3 separate regions of the Homo sapiens genome follow, and all the other regions are linked to region 1. Evidence: fine-mapped expression QTL. A gene starts in region 1. Each other region holds a variant in brackets. All regions are shown on one strand. Distances are between the middles of the regions. Region 1 holds the start of LINC02440 (long intergenic non-protein coding RNA 2440). Region 2 overlaps VSIG10 (V-set and immunoglobulin domain containing 10). Region 3 has its middle 23 kb from the start of LINC02440.

Evidence for each region. PIP is the estimated chance that this variant, and not a neighbour inherited with it, causes the effect.
Region 2: its variant is fine-mapped to the expression of LINC02440 in amygdala (GTEx, PIP 0.96).
Region 3: its variant is fine-mapped to the expression of LINC02440 in hippocampus (GTEx, PIP 0.98).

What each region holds. Positions count from the first base shown.
Region 1 is chr12:118,771,132-118,777,279 of GRCh38, reverse strand. It overlaps LINC02440 (long intergenic non-protein coding RNA 2440), which reads left to right and starts at 2,675. Exons shown (of 3, transcript NR_183608.1): 1 at 2,675-2,794; 2 at 3,505-3,669; 3 at 3,978-4,249.
Region 2 is chr12:118,083,817-118,089,964 of GRCh38, reverse strand. All of the region lies in intron 2 of VSIG10 (V-set and immunoglobulin domain containing 10), which reads left to right. Among named protein-coding and RNA genes, the nearest start is that of VSIG10, 17 kb to the left of the region's middle. RefSeq lists an enhancer at 4,056-4,598. The variant C/T (reference allele first, on the strand shown) is at 3,328.
Region 3 is chr12:118,794,486-118,800,633 of GRCh38, reverse strand. No RefSeq gene overlaps it. Among named protein-coding and RNA genes, the nearest start is that of LINC02440, 23 kb to the right of the region's middle. The variant G/A (reference allele first, on the strand shown) is at 3,284.

The DNA.
Region 1 (6,148 bases):
CCGGTTTGTTTTTGGATTAAGCAATATGATATATGTATCATGCCTGGCACAAAGCCAGAAACTGAATAAATCCTAGCTGATAATCTTTTTTCAATGATATTTTTAGTAATAATATTGTTATTGCAATTCCAAAATATATTTGTATTGTAAAATAAAGCAATGAGTACCTAATTTCATGTCATTAAAAATCAAGGTTTTCAGTTGAAAAGAGATATATGATCAAAGGAAAAACACTGTATCCTGATTTTGAATGAGAAATATCAGTATAAACTCATGATGTGTTTTCTCCTAAAAAGTATGCATTTTCTAACTGTCCTCTTAAAAGACCTAGAGCCAATAACAAACCCAGGAGCAGTGAGCACTCCCACCACCCAGATGATGGTCTCAAATACCATTTTCCCACTCAAAGAGGTCTGAGCTCCTTGGAGAAATGGCTGACTCTGGCTTTGAGTAGCAAATGTATAAGATAAGTCTGAAAAGATTATCATACCAAAGTATGAGAAAGCTGTTGATATATTAGGGTTATTTCTAGAGAACTCAAGGACCAACTTTAATAGTCTTCCACTAGCCAAAGATGAGATCATTTGAGCATCAAATGTCCCTGTATTTAAGTTCCTCCAGTAAACCCTAGGTCTCATTCACTGTCTCCAGGGCACAGTGCCATTTCAGTTGGAGTTGACAGGTGTTTGGTACAACACCTTCCTTGGTGCTGCTGTCTGAGTTAAGTCACCTCCTCTGATACCATTACATCTCTCTCATAGCACATCTTAAAATACATAGTATCTGGCAGGTTATGTGCCTGGTGCCTCACCCCCTTTGAGTCCCTGAAGAACAGAGGCCATGTCTTTTTCACCATTGTATCTTTATCATCTTGTATAGTTTCTTGCACATTGTAGGCTCACGGGGCTTACTAAATGGGTGAGTGAGAGAATGGAGGAATAACATCCTCCTCGTCGTTTTCATTTCATCATGGTACACACTTTAGCTCAGGTATCCTCTGAACTCTTCCTTTCTTCACTCCCTTGTCAATAACAACTTTCTTGCATGCTGCCCCATTGGCCTCGGGCCATGATCTTGGCAAAGAAGATGAAGAAGGACAATACGGTTTTGTCATCCAGATACTACCATTTAACCTATGTAGTTACTTGGTCTTCTGTGGCACCTAACACTTTACAAACTCCTTCGATAAGTATGAGCTCCTTACAACAGCCCTGGAAGGCAGGCAAGGTTACTCTTGGTATCCCCAGGATAGAAGTGAGTGAGTTTACATAGATAACTCATGATGTCTGTCCCATCCACAGCACCTGTTTTGGCAGCCCCTGCTGAAGAACTGGCCACAAGTCAATTGGCCACTCATGTTGTATGCTAGGGGCCTGACCCTTGGCCAGAATTCATTGGATCAGAACTGTACACTTGATCTAAGTGAGCCAATCAGGCTGTCTCTTGAAAATGTAAACTGGAAAAGAAAGACTTCCTTGAAGGTCATTTTGGCATTTTTGGCACTGAGCAGTGTGCAGACAGAAGCAGAGAGGAGCCACCAGGAGGTCTCAGAAAGAGATAGAAAGAATAGTCTCCATGACTTCTGAGCTCTCTGTAGTACCCAGTGGAGTTTCTTGTGAAAACCAGCTCTGATTCCTGCCCTTGGATCTCAGGAATCTCTTTAGTGTCTTTCTGATAAAGCTCTCATTTCACTAGAGTTAATTTGTGTAGGCTTCTGTTCCTTGTAAACAAATAAGACATGGCCCAGACAGGGATATAAGCAGAAGGAAGAACATCAGGCTAGAGATCAGAAGACCTTAGTGGCTTTGCACTGAGTAACTGTGTGACACCAGGTAAAATATTTCATCTCTCAGAACCTCAGTTTCCACTCTTGTAAAGTGAGAATGCTGACAATACCTAGCATACAGGAGCAATTGAGCAACACGCTTAACAGCATTTTGTTGCTATATAATTACTAAGTGAGTTAACTTATCCACGATCACTATAATGGCGGGAAATTCAAGCATCATAGTTGGCAAGCCATAAGAGCTGCTAGGGAGAGATTGAGCATTGTTCAACCAGAAGTCACTTTGTACAACAGCCTCCTGGGAGTGGAGCTGCCTGTGGACACTGCCCTGAGTCAGGAGGAAGGGTACGATGACTTTGAGCACACCCTACCCGGAAGTCACCAGCTTCCAGGAGACAATGGCCTGAAGAGAAAGCCCCAGTCACCCCAGGGGAGGCAGGGAAGCATCTACCTCTGGCTCTATCTCTAGCATCATTCTTTCTCTCTGGGTCTCTGAGTTCTTAGGTCAGGGATGGTGTCTCTCTTGCTAATAGCCCTGTCTCCAGAAGCACACAGGCTTGGCACACAGTAAGTGAATGAATGTCTCCGTGTCCCTGTCTGTCTCTATGAGCCTCTGTTAGCTGTTTTTTAATGTGGCCCTCTTGCTCTCGCTCTCTCTCTCTCCTCTCTCTCTCTTTCTCTCTCTCCCTCTCTCTCTCTCTCTGCCTCTCCCTGCTCTTTGTCTCTCTCTTATCTCTCCCCTCTGTCTCCCTCTGTCCTCGGTGTCTCTCTCACATCCTCCTCTGTCTCCGCCCCACCTCACGGCACACGTACTCACACCTGCCCCAGACCTTTCCCTCTCCTGAGCTCCCTTTGTCTTGGTCCCTCTCCCGTTGCCTGGTAACAGCCCTCCCCTTCACCAGCTCCGCGGAAACCATAGCAACGGGCAGCCGGAAGATGCGGCCATTCCTCTCCCTTTTGTCCATTGCATTTCAGCAGCGCCCGCGCACATGGACGCTCCAATTACAGGTACTTGGGAGGGGACGCCTTTGTCCGCGGCCCATTCACGGCGGAGCCGGCTCCGGGCGGAGAAGCTGTCGGGCGCTGTCGCACAAAGCGATTTTGTGCCTCCTCCCGGCGCCTTCCTCCACTCCCTGCCGCGTTCAAGGACAAACAAGGACCTCCAAATTCGTGTTCAAACGCCCCGCGTGGTAGGCAGTGTGGGGGGGTCAGAGGAGAGTCTGGAAGGAACCCAAAGGGTGAGCAGACCTAGCCAGTGAAGAACGCACAGACATACTGACCCAGCAGCCCCCAGAAGAGAAGCCAGGGACCAGAAGCGCAGGGCACGGGAATGTGTCATGATTGGCGCACAGGCTGTGGCCCCACCGCTGCCTGCCTTACTCCCCTCTGCGCGCTGACCTTCCACTCCTCCTGCACCGAGGTCCTTCTCAAACCAGAGGCTTCACACCTGTTCTTCCCTCTGGCTCAGATTTCCCATCCCTCTTTGCACACTTAACTGCTACCCGACCCTCAGTCTCAGCTCCAGCGTGCCTTCCTGGAAGAAGCTTCCCTGCCCACCCCTCCATTCCCTTTCCCAGGTTCCCACAGCCCCCTAAGCTGTGCTTTCCACGTCTACAATCATATATATTTCTTAAATGCCGTATAAGTTTCCAGCGGCTCCTGTAACAGATGACCACAAACTGGATGGCTTAAAACAACACGTATGCATTGTCTCCCAGCTCTAGAGGCTAGAAATTGGCAGTCAGGATGTGTGTAAGGCCACGCTCCCTCTGAAGACTCCAGGGGAGGATCTTTCCTTGCCTCCTCCAGCTTCTGGTGGCTGCCAGCATCCTTGGCATTCCTTGGCCTGTGGACACATCACTCTCATCTCTGCCCATGGTCACGTGAGTTTCTCTCCGTGTCTCTCTGTCCTAATTTCCCTCATTTTATAAGGATACCGGTCATTGGATTTGAGTTCACCCTAACCCAGAATGACCTGTCTTAACTTGATTATATCTGTAATGTTATTTCCAAATGATACAGACAGGAGACAGGGTGACACTGGGTAGAAGAGGGTGGTTCTCCAGCAAAGGCCCCACCCTCAAGCCTGGATACCTGAGGCCCTAAATGAGAATGGGAATTCCTGTTTTCAAGCCCCCAAAGTTGCCTTTTGGCCCACCACGCCCCCTATCTTGCCCCCATATAAGCCCAGAACCCCAAGCTCCAGAATACAGACCAGCAGGCGAGGAGACAAGGAGGCAAGCAGATGGATGGTGGAACAAAGTGGCAGAGAAAGAGAGAAGAGGAGAGATGTCTGGACGCCAAGAGGAGTCTGGCTGGGGCCAGTCAGAGAAGAGTCCAGCGGCTGGGCAGCCCGACTCCAGGGGAAGATCACCTTCCCACTCCATCCCCCTTCACGCTCCCCATCCATCTCACTAAGAGCCATCTCTACCACTCAATAAAACCTTGCATTCATCCTTCAAACCCTTGTGTGATGTGATTCTTCTGAGACACTGGGCAAGAGCTCAGGATACAGAAAGCTGTCACATTGGCCCTCTGCCCTTCTGATAAGGCCGAGGGTCCATTGAGCTGATTAACACTCAAGCCATCTGCAGATGGCAAAGCTGAAAGAGCTTTGTAACACTGGGGTTGCAAGCACCCACCCGTAGACACTACTGTGGGGCCAAGAGCCCAAAGCACTTGCCCAGCCTCTCCACCTGCCCATCTGCATGCTCCCCCTAGGTGTTTGAGCTGCGGGGTGACTGAATAGGCAAGACGCACCTCTGTTGCACATCCTGCCAGGGGAATCAGGGAACTCTCCCATTTCACAGAAAAGGTCACATTCCAAGGTCCAAGGTAGAAATAAGTTTGGGGAGAGGAAGCACTATTCAACCCAGTATGGGTTATTCATATAACCCAGTAATGGTTATTCATTCTCCCTCCTCTAAACTTACAAGCCCTGAGACCTCTGCAAACCTTTACCCATGACTCTGTCCCCCAGTGTCTGGTCAGCTAAGAGGCCAGTCAATATTCAGTGAACGAATGAGCAAGAAAGAGTTGCTTCTCCTCCATGAGCCTTAGTAGTCCTTATCCATAAAATGGGCATAATAGCATTACTTCAAAACATCATTGAGGAGGAATCCACACCTGACAGGTAGAGAATTTGAAAAAATCAATAACCATGTGTATCAGTTTCTTGCCACTGCTGTACAAATTACCACAAATTTCATGGTTCAAACCACTCCAATGTACTCTCTCACAGTTCTGGAGAAATCCAAAATCAACATGTCAACAGGACCACGCTCCCTCCAAAGGCTCTAGGGGAGGATCCTTTCTGGCCCCTTTCAGCTTCTGGTGGCTCCAGGCATTTGTTGGCTTTTGGCTGAATCACTCCAATCTCTGCCTCCATCTTCACATGGCCTGTCTCCTGTCCTGTGTCCTCTCCTTTTCTTATCAGGACACTTGACATTGAATATAGTGCCTACTCAGATAATTCCGGATGGTCTCATCTTGAAATCTTTACACCTGCAAAGACCCCTTTTCCAAATAAAATTACATTCACTGGTTCAGATGATTTGACATGGGGACATCTTTTGGGGGAGGGGGGAAGCCACCATTCAATCCACTACCATGATTATTATTTCCATAATTAAGGTACGAGCTGTGGTTGCTGACAATTTATATTCAATCAATATTTATGAGGACCAAGTAGTTGCAGTTCTGAAATGTCCTGATTTTTACTGAATTTTCACAATGACCCTACTGTTTGCATGTTAAAAGTTGAGACAAATGAGGCAGGAGAGGTAAGGTGATGTCCCCCTACATCACAAACAGGGCAGAGTCCTCCAATGTACCCTGCCCCAATCCCAGCCCAGTGTGTGCACAAACCATTCCTCTGCCCAAAGCCCTTTCTTTTTCTCACCTTCACTAGTTAGGTCTGCCCATCCTTCTGGTTCCTTTCAGACTCTCCTCTGACCCTGCAGGGCTATGTTAGGGTTCCTCTGGTTTCCATGGCATTCTTTACTTTTTCTCTCTGTGTCTATTTGTATCTGCTTCCTCTGAACTGTGAACTCCTTGAGGCTAAAGACTGAGTTTTGTTCAACATTACACCATCACAGCTTAGCATGGAACCAACCATAGAGAAGGAGCTCTATAAATATTTATAGAAGTGAAATTGTATGTGTGATGGTATTGACATGGACTTATTCAACTGAAACATATCAATACCAGTTACATTATTATTATGACTTGTTGTCTGAGACCCAGGTCCCACAAAAATCCTGAGTTAGAGAAAGCTAGTGGATACTTACTCCTAGGATTCAAGGGATTGCCAAGTTTGAAAGACTGAGCAACTGGAAAAACCCTGGTGCCATTAATAGAAAT
Region 2 (6,148 bases), 690 kb after region 1:
TCATTTGCACATGGAAAATGTATGTGTTTGGTATCAAGAAGAGCTGATGAAATAAAACAGGGAAGGGAGAATTGAAGGTATACAGAGTCGGTGACCAGACAGGGTGGCGACAGTGGCCTTGGTGAAAATGCACAGGTTTGGAAAATATTTTGGAAGGAGACCAGCAGGACTCGCTGCTGGATCAGAAGTAGAGGATAAAGGAAAGAGAGGCTTCCAGGACACTTCTTGGTTTTGGGTGATGTCTAAGGTTTCTGCCAATTCTCAAAGATTAGGGCATCGTCCATTACAGCAGTGTTTCTGTGTCTGGAGAGGCCATAGATAAATTCCTGGGTGATGCCAGGAATGAAGGGGGTGCATTAAAAAATGTCACCCATCTTGGCCCCACTGTTTGGTTCCCACTGTGAGCCTACGGGCAAGTGCTGGCTGGTCTCCCTCAGTCCACCTGCCCAAAATAATTAGTCATCGCTTCCTGTCCATCTCATCAATGAATAACCTTATCTTTTATCCACAGTGGGGTAAGGCGACATTGCAACTTTTTGTTTCTTTATCATCACTCTCTTTAGTTTATGATGACTTGATCAGACACTGATTTGTTAATCATTGGCTAAGTTTATTGGAGGATGGATTAGTTTCATTATTGCCCTGTAGGGAGATAAAGGCAAGGTCTTGTTGCAATGAACGTGAACTTGCAACTTTAAAAATGTCACTGAACTCATGGCTGGGTGCAGTGGCTCATGCCTGTAATCCCAGCACTTTGGGAGGCTGAGGCGGGTGGATCACTTGAGGTCAGGAGTTTGAGACCAGCCTGGCCAACATGGTGAAACTCCATCTCTACTAAAAATACAAAACTTAATCAGGTGTGATGATGCACACCTGTGATCCCAGATGCGTGGGAGGCTGACACACAAGAAAAGCTTCAACCGGGGAGGGCGGAGGTTGCAGTGAGCCGAGATGGCACCACTGCACCCCAGCCTGGGTGACAGAACAAGAGTCTGTCTCATAAAAAAAAAAAAAAAAGAAAAAGGAATAAAAATGTCACTGAATTCCAGTGGCACTTTGTACTCCCTCCAGGGAAGTCCTGTGCATGTCTTAGTTACTGTGCTGTGATTCATAGTATGGAAATTTCTTCACGTGGAAATACATGGGGTCCTTGACTGATGTAGGGCTTGTTTGTGAAAACCAGACACAGATACCCTTTGATTCAAATACACCAGAGCCGTCTGGGGTTGGTCTCCTGGTTCTCATCTTAGGAGGTCCCTGGGCTAAACAGCAGACTCCTCTCTGCCTTGGAAGCCTGTGTTGCTCCCCGACAGTGGCCAGCGGGGAGGGCGTGACATCTCTGATTGGAGTTGGCCCTCATTTTTGCGTAGATTTAGGAAAATAGATTAGGTTTGATTCAGCCTCTTTCTGGGATGGCAGTGGTATTTCGGAGTGGTCCAGATGACTGGGTTCAAATCCACGTTCTATTAGCTGTTGTTGTCTGTGTGACCTTGGGAAAGTCCCTTGAACTCCAGTGTTAGTTTTATTGTCTGTGAAATTGAGGGTAACGGTGGAAGGAGTTACGGATTTGTGTTATGCATTAATGAGATAAACTCATGTAGCCCTCAGCACACTTGAACTGGATCCAGTGGTTAAGCCAGCGATGGGATTCCCGTGGGATAGTCCATCTCAAGTTCTCAACAATCAACCAGTTTATATCTGGGTCCTTTTTTTTTTTTTTTTTTCTGAGACACAGTCTCGCCCTGTCACCCAGGCTGGAGTGCAATGGCTCGGCTCACTGCAGCCTCCGCCTCCCGGGTTCAGGTGATTCTCCTGCCTTAGGTTCCCGAGTAGCTGGGATTACAGGCGTGCGCCACCACGCCTGGCTAATTTTTTGTATCTTTAGTAGAGACGGGGTTTCACCATGTTGGCCAGGCTGGTCTTGAACTCCTAACCTCGTGATCCACCCGCCTCGGCCTCCCAAAGTCCTGGGATTACAGGCATGAGCCACCGCGCCCAGCCTCATCTGGGTCTTTCGAACAGGTCTTGCTGTGGGTTAGGGACTCTTTGTGCCCAGATCTTTTCACTGATGTAGTTGCTAGCTGAGTCACATTACCTCCTTCTCTCTCTTTTTTTTTTTTTTTTTTTGAGACAGGATCTCACTCTGTCACCCAGGCTGGAGTGCAGTGGTGTGATTTCGGCTCACTACAGCCTTGAATTCCTAGGCTCAAGTGATTCTTTTATCTCACCGTCCTGAGTAGCTGAGACTAATAGTGTGTGCCACCACACTCGGCTAATTTTTTAGTTTTTTTGTAGAGACAAGGTCTCACTATATTGCCCAGGCTGGTTTTGAACTCCTGGGCTCAAGCAGTCTTCCCTCCTTGGCCTCCCAAAGTGCTGGGCTTACAGATATGAACCACCTCGCCCAGCCCCCTCCTTCTCTTAAGGAGAACAATTTGGAAACATTCTAACATGGCCTTGGAATCTAGGGGGAACAAATTCCAAGATATGACAGTTTGTTATCTGCAAGTGGCTGGGGATGTGTGAATGGACAGAGATGCTGTAGAAACATGGAAATGGAAGTAGGGAGGTTGCTAGATTTCTCCCTCCTTACCCCTTGGTCCTCTGCTTGTCCATCGGTGGGCATTTGGTGTCTCTGTCTTGTAGGAGGTCAGGTTTTCTGTAGGCCCGGGGCAATTCAACCTGCCTGGAATGGGCACCCGTGGTGTGATTTCATCACTCATCCCACAACAAGAGTATGCACTGCTCCCTGTTAATTGAAAGGTGAAGTTGAAGGGTCTTGCCATTAGGATTGAGACTCTGCTTCTAAATGTACAGAAATCCCTTGGTCCAGAGCAGTTAAGGGCTGCCAACGCCGTTTCTTTCTTTCTTTCTTTTTTTTTTTTTTCAATTTTTAAATTTAGGCTGGGAGTGGTGGCTCACGCCTGTAATCCCAGCGCTTTGGGAGACCAAGGTGGGCAGATCACCTGAGGTCGGAAGTTTGAAACCGCCTTGGCCAACATAGTGAAACCCCATTTCTATTAAAAATACAAAAAAATTAGCTGGGCGTGGTGACACACGCCTGTCATCTCAGCTACTCAGGAGGCTGATGTGGGAGAATCATTTGAACCCAGGAAGCGGAGTTTGCAGTGAGCTGAGTTTTCACCACTGCACTCCAGCCTGGGTGACAGAGTGAGACTCCATCTCAAAAAAATACATAAGTAAATAAATAAATTGATTAAACAAATATTTTTGCAGAGACAGGGCCTCATTATGTTGCTCAGGCTGGTCTTGAACTACTGGGTTCAAGCGATCCTCCCGTGTCAGCCTCCCACAATGCTGAGATTA[C/T]AGGCAGGATCCATCTTACCCGGCCACACAGCTGTTTATTTCATCAATTGACCCATCCCTGCTACCTCCAAATTGGAGTGGGTATGATATTGGAACAGCCATGTGTTTACCTGCAGACAGGCTGGTCAGATAGGGAAGGTGTCACAGCCTTTCCCATATCCTGGTACACTTTTTTTTTTTGAGACGCAGTTTTACTTGGTCACCCACACTGGCATGATCTCGGCTCATGGCAGCCTCTGCCTCCTGGGTTCAAGCTATTCTCCTGCCCCAGCCTCCCAAGTAGCTGGGATTACAGGCACCCACTACCACGCCTGAATAATTTTTGTGTTTTTAGTAGGGACAGGGTTTTGTTTTGCCATATTGCCCAGGGTGGTCTTGAACTCCTGACCTCAAGTGATCCGCCTGCCTCCGCCTCCCAAAGTGCTGGGATTACAGAGGTGAGCCACCGTGCCCAGCTGACTTTGTGCTTTTTTTTTTTTGAGACAAAGTTTCGCTCTTGTTGCCCAGGCTGGAGTGCAGTGGTGCAATCTGAGCTCACTGCAACCTCTGCCTCCCGGGTTCAAGCGATTCTCCTGCCTCGCCTCCCAAGTAGGTGGTATTACACGCATTTGCCATCACGCCTGGCTAATTCTTTGTATTTTTAGAAAAGACAGGGTTTCACCATGTTGGCCAGGCTGGGTCTTGAACTCCTGACCTCAGGTGATCCACACGCCTTGGGCTCCCAAAGTGCTGGGATTACAGGCGTGAGCCATCATGCCTGGGCCCAACTTTTTTTTTTTTTTTTTGAGACGAAGTCTCGCTCTGTTGCCCAGGAGTGGTGTGATCTCGGCTCACTGCAACCTCTGCCTCCTGAGTTCAAATGATTCTCCTGCCTCAGCCTCCCAAGTAGCTGGGACTACAGGCGTGCATCACCACACCTGGCTAATTTTTGTATTTTTAGTAGAGGCAGGGTTTCACCATGTTGGCCAGGCTGTTCTTGAACTCCTGACCTCAGGTGATCCACCCGCCTCGGCCTCCCAAAATGCTGGGATTACAGGCATGAGCCATCATGCCCAGCCAACTTTGTGTTTTTCTTTTTCTTAAAGATATTGTCTCTTATATATGCATTTGAGGAGCTTAGCTATCGAGAGATAAATCAGCCCATGAAAGACCCCAGTCAGATTTCATGGCACACAGTGCCAGGCTCTCCCTGTGTCTGTTTTTCTCAGGCCAAACAAGTGTTTGGGGAACAATGGAACCAGCTCGCACGTGAGCAATGAGGAAGCTGGTCTGTGTCTACCTCCAAGAGGCTTAGGATTCAGTTGGGTTTGGGGGATGGGGACCTCCTCTCTAGCCAGTGATGTGGCCTTCAGTCCAAACTTCCAAGAAAGGGAATCTCAGAAAGATCCATGTTTCCTGGCTGATGGACCTGTCTGATATGGACCCACCAACAGCTCTTTGTCTGTGTTGGTGGTGGTGTCGCTATGTCTTCTCACAGTGTAGGCCCCTAGGGAAAGGGAATGCTGGGTACACCGAAGAAAACTTGTTTGTGCCTGGTCAGAAGGTGGGGTGATTCTTGCCCAAGGATTGATTAATTTAGGTCTTGCCAAGCTTATCTGTTTTTGTTTGTTTGTTTGTTCGAGACGGAGTCTCACTCTGTTGCCCAGGCTGGAGTGCAGTGGCGCGATCTCGGCTCACTGCAAGCTCCGCCTCCCGGGTTCACACCATTCTCCTGCCTCAGCCTCCAGAGTAGCTGGGACTACAGGCGCCCGCCACCATGCCTTGCTAATTTTTTGTATTTTTAGTAGAGACGGGGTTTCACCGTGTTAGCCAGGATGGTCTCGATCTCCTGACCTTGTTTAGGTGATTCTCTTGCTTCAGCCTCCTGAGTAGCTGGGATTACAGGCATGCTCTACCACGCCCAGCTGATTTTTGTATTTTTAGTAGAGATGGGGTTTCACCATGTTGGCCAGGTGGGTCTCAAACTCCTGACCTCAAGCGATCCACCCACCTCGGCCTCCCAAAGCGCTGGGATTACAGGATGAGCCACCGTGCCTGGCCTGCCAAGCTTATCTGTAGCAGAGATTGGTGCTTATAGGAGCCTGCAGATCTCTGGGATGGGCTCTTTGCGTGGCAGTCACTAGGGAGATCAAGAGAAAGTCGGTTGTTGATTTTGCCTATAAAGGTGATATCACAGTCTGTAAGTCTTCCCACAGACCTTATCCCATTGAAGAAGTACACATTAACTGATTAGCACAGACTGTGTGGTGCATTCTGAAGTCATTTTCGAATAAAATTCCTGGTCTAAAGAGTAAATAGCTGAAGATAAGGTAACTTTTCCTGTTAGCAAGGAATTCAAGATACTGAGATGTAAATGAACCTTTTGCAGCTCTTGACTGGCCAACCTATATTTGTGGTGGGTAAGGAAAGAAGTGAATTCTGATGTCAAAGAGGACAGCAAAGAACAGGAAGGCAGCAGCTGTAGATTGTTCTAGAACAGGATTTGGCAAAGCTTTTCCTTTTCTTTTTTTTCTTGAGATAGGGAGGGTCTCATTGTGTCACCCAGGCTGGAGTGTACTGGCACAATCACAGCTCACTGCAACCTCCACCTCCTGGGCTGAAGTGATCCTCCCACCTCAGCCTCCTGAATAGCTGGGACTACTTACCTGCACCACCACGCCTGGCAAATTCTTTGGTGTTTTTTGAGATGGGGTTTTGCCATGTTGCCCAGGCTGGTCTCGAACTCCTGGGCTCATGTGATCTTTTGCCTCATCTTCCCAAAATGCTAGGATTGCAGGCATGAGCCACCGTCCCTGGCCAGCAAAACTTTAAAAAATTTTTT
Region 3 (6,148 bases), 23 kb before region 1:
TCAACTGATGGATAAATAAACAAAATATAGTATTATATATCCATACAATGGAAAATTATTTGATTGTAAAAAGAAATACAGTTCTGATACATGCTATAACATGGGTAAACCTTGAAAAGATTGTGCTAAGTGAAAGAAGTCAGACACAAAAAAACACATATTATATGATTCCATTTAAAACTACCAGAATAGTCAAATCTATAGAGACAAAAAGTAGATTTGCAGTTGCTTATTGATGGGGAGGGGGAGGTTTGGGAAGGTGATAACTAAAGAGTATGAAATTTCTCTCTAAAACTACTAGAAGAAAACAGGGTGAAAGTTCCATGACATTGGTCTGGGGAATAATTTTTTGTATATGAACGCAAAAGCACAGGCAACAAAAGCAAAAACTAGAAGAACGGGAGTGTATCAAACTAAAAAGCTTCTGCACAACCAAGGAAACAATCAACAGAATGAAGAGTTAACCTGTGGAATGAGAGAATATATTTGCAAATTATACATCTGATAAGAGGGTAATATCCAAAATATATAAGGAACTCAAACAACACAATAGTAACAAAACAAATAACCCAATTAGAAATTCAAAGGATCTGAAGAGACATTTCTCAAAAGAAGACATACAAATGGCCAAAGAGTGATGAAAAATGCTCAAAATTACTAATTATCAGCAAAATGCAAATTAAGACTAGAATCAGGTATTACTTCACAACTGTTAGAATGGCTATATGAAAAAGACGGAAGATAAGTGTAGAAGAGAATTTGGAGAAATGGGAACCCTGGAATGTAAATTAGCACAGCCATTATGGAAAACAGTATGGAGGTTCCTCAAAAAAATTAAAAATAGAACTACCATATGATCCAGTAGTCCTATTAAAGGGTCTATTTCCAAGGGAAATGAAATCAGTATATCAAAGAGATATCTGCATTTTCATGTTCATTGCAGCATTATTCACATGGCCAAGGAATAGAACCAATTTAAGTGCCCACTGATGGATGAATGGATAAAGAAAACGTGGTACAGACCTGGCAAGATGGTCGAATAGGAACAGCTCTGGTCTGCAGCTCCCAGTGAGACAAAGGCAGAAGGTGGGAGATTTCCGCATTTCTGACTGAGGTACCCAGCTCATGTCATTGGGACTGGTTAGACAGCGGGTGCAGCCCACAGAGGGTGAGCAGAAGCAGGGTGGGGCATTTCCTCACCTGGGAAGTGCAAGGAGCTGGGGACCTCTCTCCCCCAGCCAAGGGAAGCCGTGAGGGACTGTGCTATCCGGCCCTGATACTGCACTTTTCCTATGGTTTTTGCAATCTGCAGACCAGGAGATTCCCTCGTGTGCCTACACCACCAGGGCCCTGGATTTCAAGCACAAAACTGGGCAGCTGTTTGGGCAGGCACCGAGCTAGCTGTGGGAGTTTGTTGTTGTTGTTGTTGTTGTTGTTGTTTTTTCATATCCCAGTGGTGCCTGGAACCCCAGCGAGACAGAATCATTCACTCCCCTGGAAAGGGGGCTGAAGACAGGGAGTCAAGTGGTCTTGCTCAGTGGGTCCCATTCCCACGGACACCAGCAAGCTAAGAACCACTTGCTTGAAATTCTCACTGCCAGCACAGAGGTCTGAATTTGACCTGGGATGATCAAGCTTGGTGGGGGGAGGGGCATCTGCCATTACTGAGACTTGAGTAGGTGGTTATCCCCTGACAGTGCTAAGGAGGCCAGGAAGTTTGGACTGGGTGGAATTCACCACAGCACAGTAAAGCAGCTGTGGCCAGACTGCCTCTCTAGATTCCTCCTCACTTGGCAGGGCATCTCTGAAAGAAAAGCAGCAGCCCCAGTCAGGGGCTTATAGATAAAACTCCCAGCTCCCTGGGACAGAGCACCTGGGGGAAGAGGCGGCTGTGGGCACAGCTTCAATGGACTTGAACTTTCCTGCCTTCCAGCTCTGAAGAGTGCTGGAGATAAGCAGGATTCTCCCAGCACAGCGCTCAAGCTCTGCTAAGGGACAGACTGCCTCCTCAAGTGGGTCCCTAACCCCTGTGCCTCCTGACTGGGAGACACCTTCCAGCAGGGGTCAACAGATGCCTCATACAGGAGAGCTCCAGCTGGCATCAGGCTGATGCCCCTGTGAGACAAAGCTTCCAGAGAAGGAGCAGGCAGCAATCTTTGCTGTTCTGCAGCCTCTGCTGGTGATACCCAGGCAAACAGCATCTGGAGTGGACCTCTAGCAAACTGCAGCAGACCTGCAGGAGAGGGACCTGACTGTTAGAATAAAAACTAACAAACAGAAAGCAACAGCAACAACATCAACAAAAAAGACCTCCACACAAAAACTCCATCCAAAGGTCATCAGCCTCAAAGATCAAAGGTAGATAAATCCATGATGAGGGAAAATCAGCGCAAAAATACTGAAAATTCCAAAAACCAGAATGCCTCTACTCCTCCAAATGATTGCAACTCCTCTCCAGCAAGGGCACAAAACTGGACAGAGAAGGAGTTTGACGAATTGACAGAAGTAGGCTTCAGAAGGTAGGTAATAACAAACTCCTCTGAGCTAAAGGAGCATGTTCTAACACAATGCAAGGAAGCTGAGAACCCTGATAAAAGGTTACAGGAACTGCTAACTAGAATAACCAGTTTAGAGTAGAGAATAAATGACCTGATGGAGCTAAAAACACAGCACGAGAACTTCATGAGGCATACACAAGTATCCATAGCTGAATCAATCAAGCAGAAGAAAGGATATCAGAGACTGAAGATCAACTTACTGAAATAAGGTATGAAGAAAAGATTAGAGAAAAAAGATGAAAAGGAATGAACAAAGCCTCCAAGAAATACGGGACTATGTGAAAAGATCAAACCTCCGATTGATTGGTGTACCTGAAAGTGACAGTGAGAAGGGGACCAAATTGGAAAACACACTTCAGGGTATTATCCAGGAGAACTTCCTTAACCTAGCAAGACAGCCCAATATTCAAATTCAGGAAATACAGAGAACACCACTAAGATAATCCTCAAGAAGGGCAACCCCAAGATACATAATCGTCACATTCTCCAATGTTGAAATGAAGGAAAAAATGTTAAGGGCAGCCAGAAAGAAAGGTCAGGTTACCTACAAATGGAAGCCCATCAGACTAAGAGCAGATCTCTCTGCAGAAACCATACATGCCAGAAAAGAGTGGGGGCCAATAGTCAACATTCTTAAAGAAAAGAATCTTCAACCCAGAATTTTATATCCAGCCAAACTAAGCTTCATAAGTGAAGGAGAAATAAAATCCTTTACAGACAAGCAA[G/A]TGCTGAGGGATTTTGTTACCACCAGGCCTGCCTTACAAGAGCTCCTGAAGGAAGCACTAAACATGGAAAGGAAAAACCAGCACCAGCCACTGCAAAAACACACCAAACTATAAAGACCAATGACATTGTGAAGAAACTGCATCAACTAATGTGCAAAATAACCAGCTAGCATCATGATGACAGGATCAAATTCACACATAACAATATTAATCTTAAATGTAAATGGGCTAAATGCCCCAATTAAAAGACACAGACTGGCAAATTGGATAAAGAGTCAAGGCCCTTCAGTGTGCTGTATTCAAGAGACCCATCTCATGTGTGAAGACACACATACACTGAAAATAAAGGGATGGAAGAATATTTACCAAGCAAATGGAAAGCAAAAAAAAGCAGGGGTTGCAATCTTAGTCTCTGATAAAACAGAATTTAAACCAACAAAGATAAAAAAAGACAAAGAAGGGCATTACACAATGGTAAAGGGATCAATGCAACAAGAAGAGCTAACTATCCTAAATATATATGCACCCAATACAGGAGCATCCAGATTCATAAAACAAGTTCTTAGAGACCTACAAACAGACTTAGACTCCCACAGAATAATAGTGGGAGATTTTAACACCCCACTGTCACTATTAGACAGATCAATGAGACAGAAAATTAACAAGAATATTCAGGACTTGAACTCAGCTCTGGACCAAGTGGACCTGATAGACATCTACAGAACTCTCCACCCCAAATCAACAGAACATACATTCTTCTCAGCACCACATAGCACTTATTCTAAAACTGACCACATAATTGGAAGTAGAACACTCCTCAGCAAATGGAAAAGAATGGAAAACATAACAGTCTCTCAGACCACAGTGCAATCAAATTAGAACTCAGGATTAAGAAACTCACTCAAACTGCACAACTACATGAAAACTAAACAACCTTCTCCTGAATGACTACTGGGTAAATAATGAAATTAAAGCAGAAATAACGAAGTTCTTTGAAACCAATGAGAAAAAAGAGACAATGTACCAGAATCTCTGGGACACAGCTAACGCAGTGTTAAGAGGGAAATTTATGCACTAAATGCCTGCATCAGAAAGTGGGAAAGATCTGAAATTGACAACCAAACATCACAATTAAAGGAACTAGAGAAGCAAGAGCAAACAAATTCAAAACCTAGCAGAATACAAGAAATAAGTAAGATCAGAGCAGAACAGAAGGAGATAGAGATACAAAAAACCCTTCAAAAAAATCAATGAATTTAGGAGCTGGTTTTTTGAAAAGATTAACAAAATAGATAGACTACTAGCCAGACTAATAAAGAAAAAAGAGAAGAATCAAATAAACACAATAAAAAATGATAAAGGGGACATCACCACTGATCCCACAGAAATACAAACTACCACCAGAGAATACTATAAACACCTCTACAGAAATAAACTAGAAAATCTAGAAGAAATGGATAAATACCCGGACACATACACCCTCCCAAGACTAAACCAGGAAGAAGTCAAATCCCTGAATAGACCAATAAAAAGTTCTGAAATTAAGACCAATAACAAGTTCTGAAATTAAATAATTAATAGCCTACCAACCAAAAAAAGCCCAGGACCAGACAGATTCATAGCCAAATTCTACCAGAGGTACAAAGAGGAGATGGTACCACTCCTTCTGAAACTATTCGAAATGATAGCAAAAGAGGGACCCCTCCCTAACTCATTTTTTGAGGCCAGCATCATCCTGATACCAAAACCTGGCAGAGACACAACAACAACAAAAAATTTCAGGCCAATATCCCTGGTGAACATCAGTGCAAAAATCCTCAATAAAATAATGGCAAACTGAATCCAGCAGCACATCAAAAAGCTTATCCACCACAATCAAGTTGGCTTCATCCCTAGGATGCAAGGTTGGTTCAACATAAGCAAATCAATAAATGTAATTCATCACATAAAGAAAACCAAAGACAAAAACCACATGATTATCTCAATAGATGCAGAAAAGGCCTTTGATAATATTCAACACACTTTCATGCTAAAAACAGTCAGAAAACTAGGTGTATTGATGGAACATATCTCAAAATAACAAGAGCTATTTATGACAAACCCATAGCTAGTATCATACTGAATGGGCAAAAGCTGGAAGCACTCCCTTTGAAAACCAGCACAAGAAAAGGATGCCCTCTCTCCCCACTCCTATTCCACATAGTATTGGAAGTTCTGGCCAGGGCAATCAGGCAAGATAAAGAAATAAAGCATATTCAAATAGGAAGAGAGGAAGTCAAATTGTCTCTGATTGCAGATGACATGACTGTATATTTAGAAAGCCCTATTGTCACAGCCCCAAAACTCCTTAAGCAGATAAGCAACTTCAGCAAAGTCTCAGGATACAAAATCAAGCTGCAAAAATCACAAGCATTTCTATACACCAATAATAGACAAGCAGAGAGCCAAATCATGAGTGAACTCCCACTCACAATTGCTACAAAGAGAATAAAATACCTAGGAATACAACTTACAAGGGATGTGAAGGACCTCTTCAAGGACAACTACAAACTGCTCCTCAAGAAAATAACAGAGGACACAAACAACTGGAAAAAAATTCCATTCTCATGGATAGGAAGAATCAACATCATGAAAACGGCCATACTGCCCAAAACAATTCATAGATTCAATGTTATTTCCATCAAGCTACCACTGACTTTCTTCACAGAATTAGAAATAACTACTTTAAATTTCATATGGAACCAAAAAAAGAGCCCATACATCCAAGGCAATCCTAAGCAAAAAGAACAAACCTGGAAGCATCATGCTACCTGACTTCAAAATATAATGCAAGTCTACAGTAACCAAAATAGCATGGTACTGGTA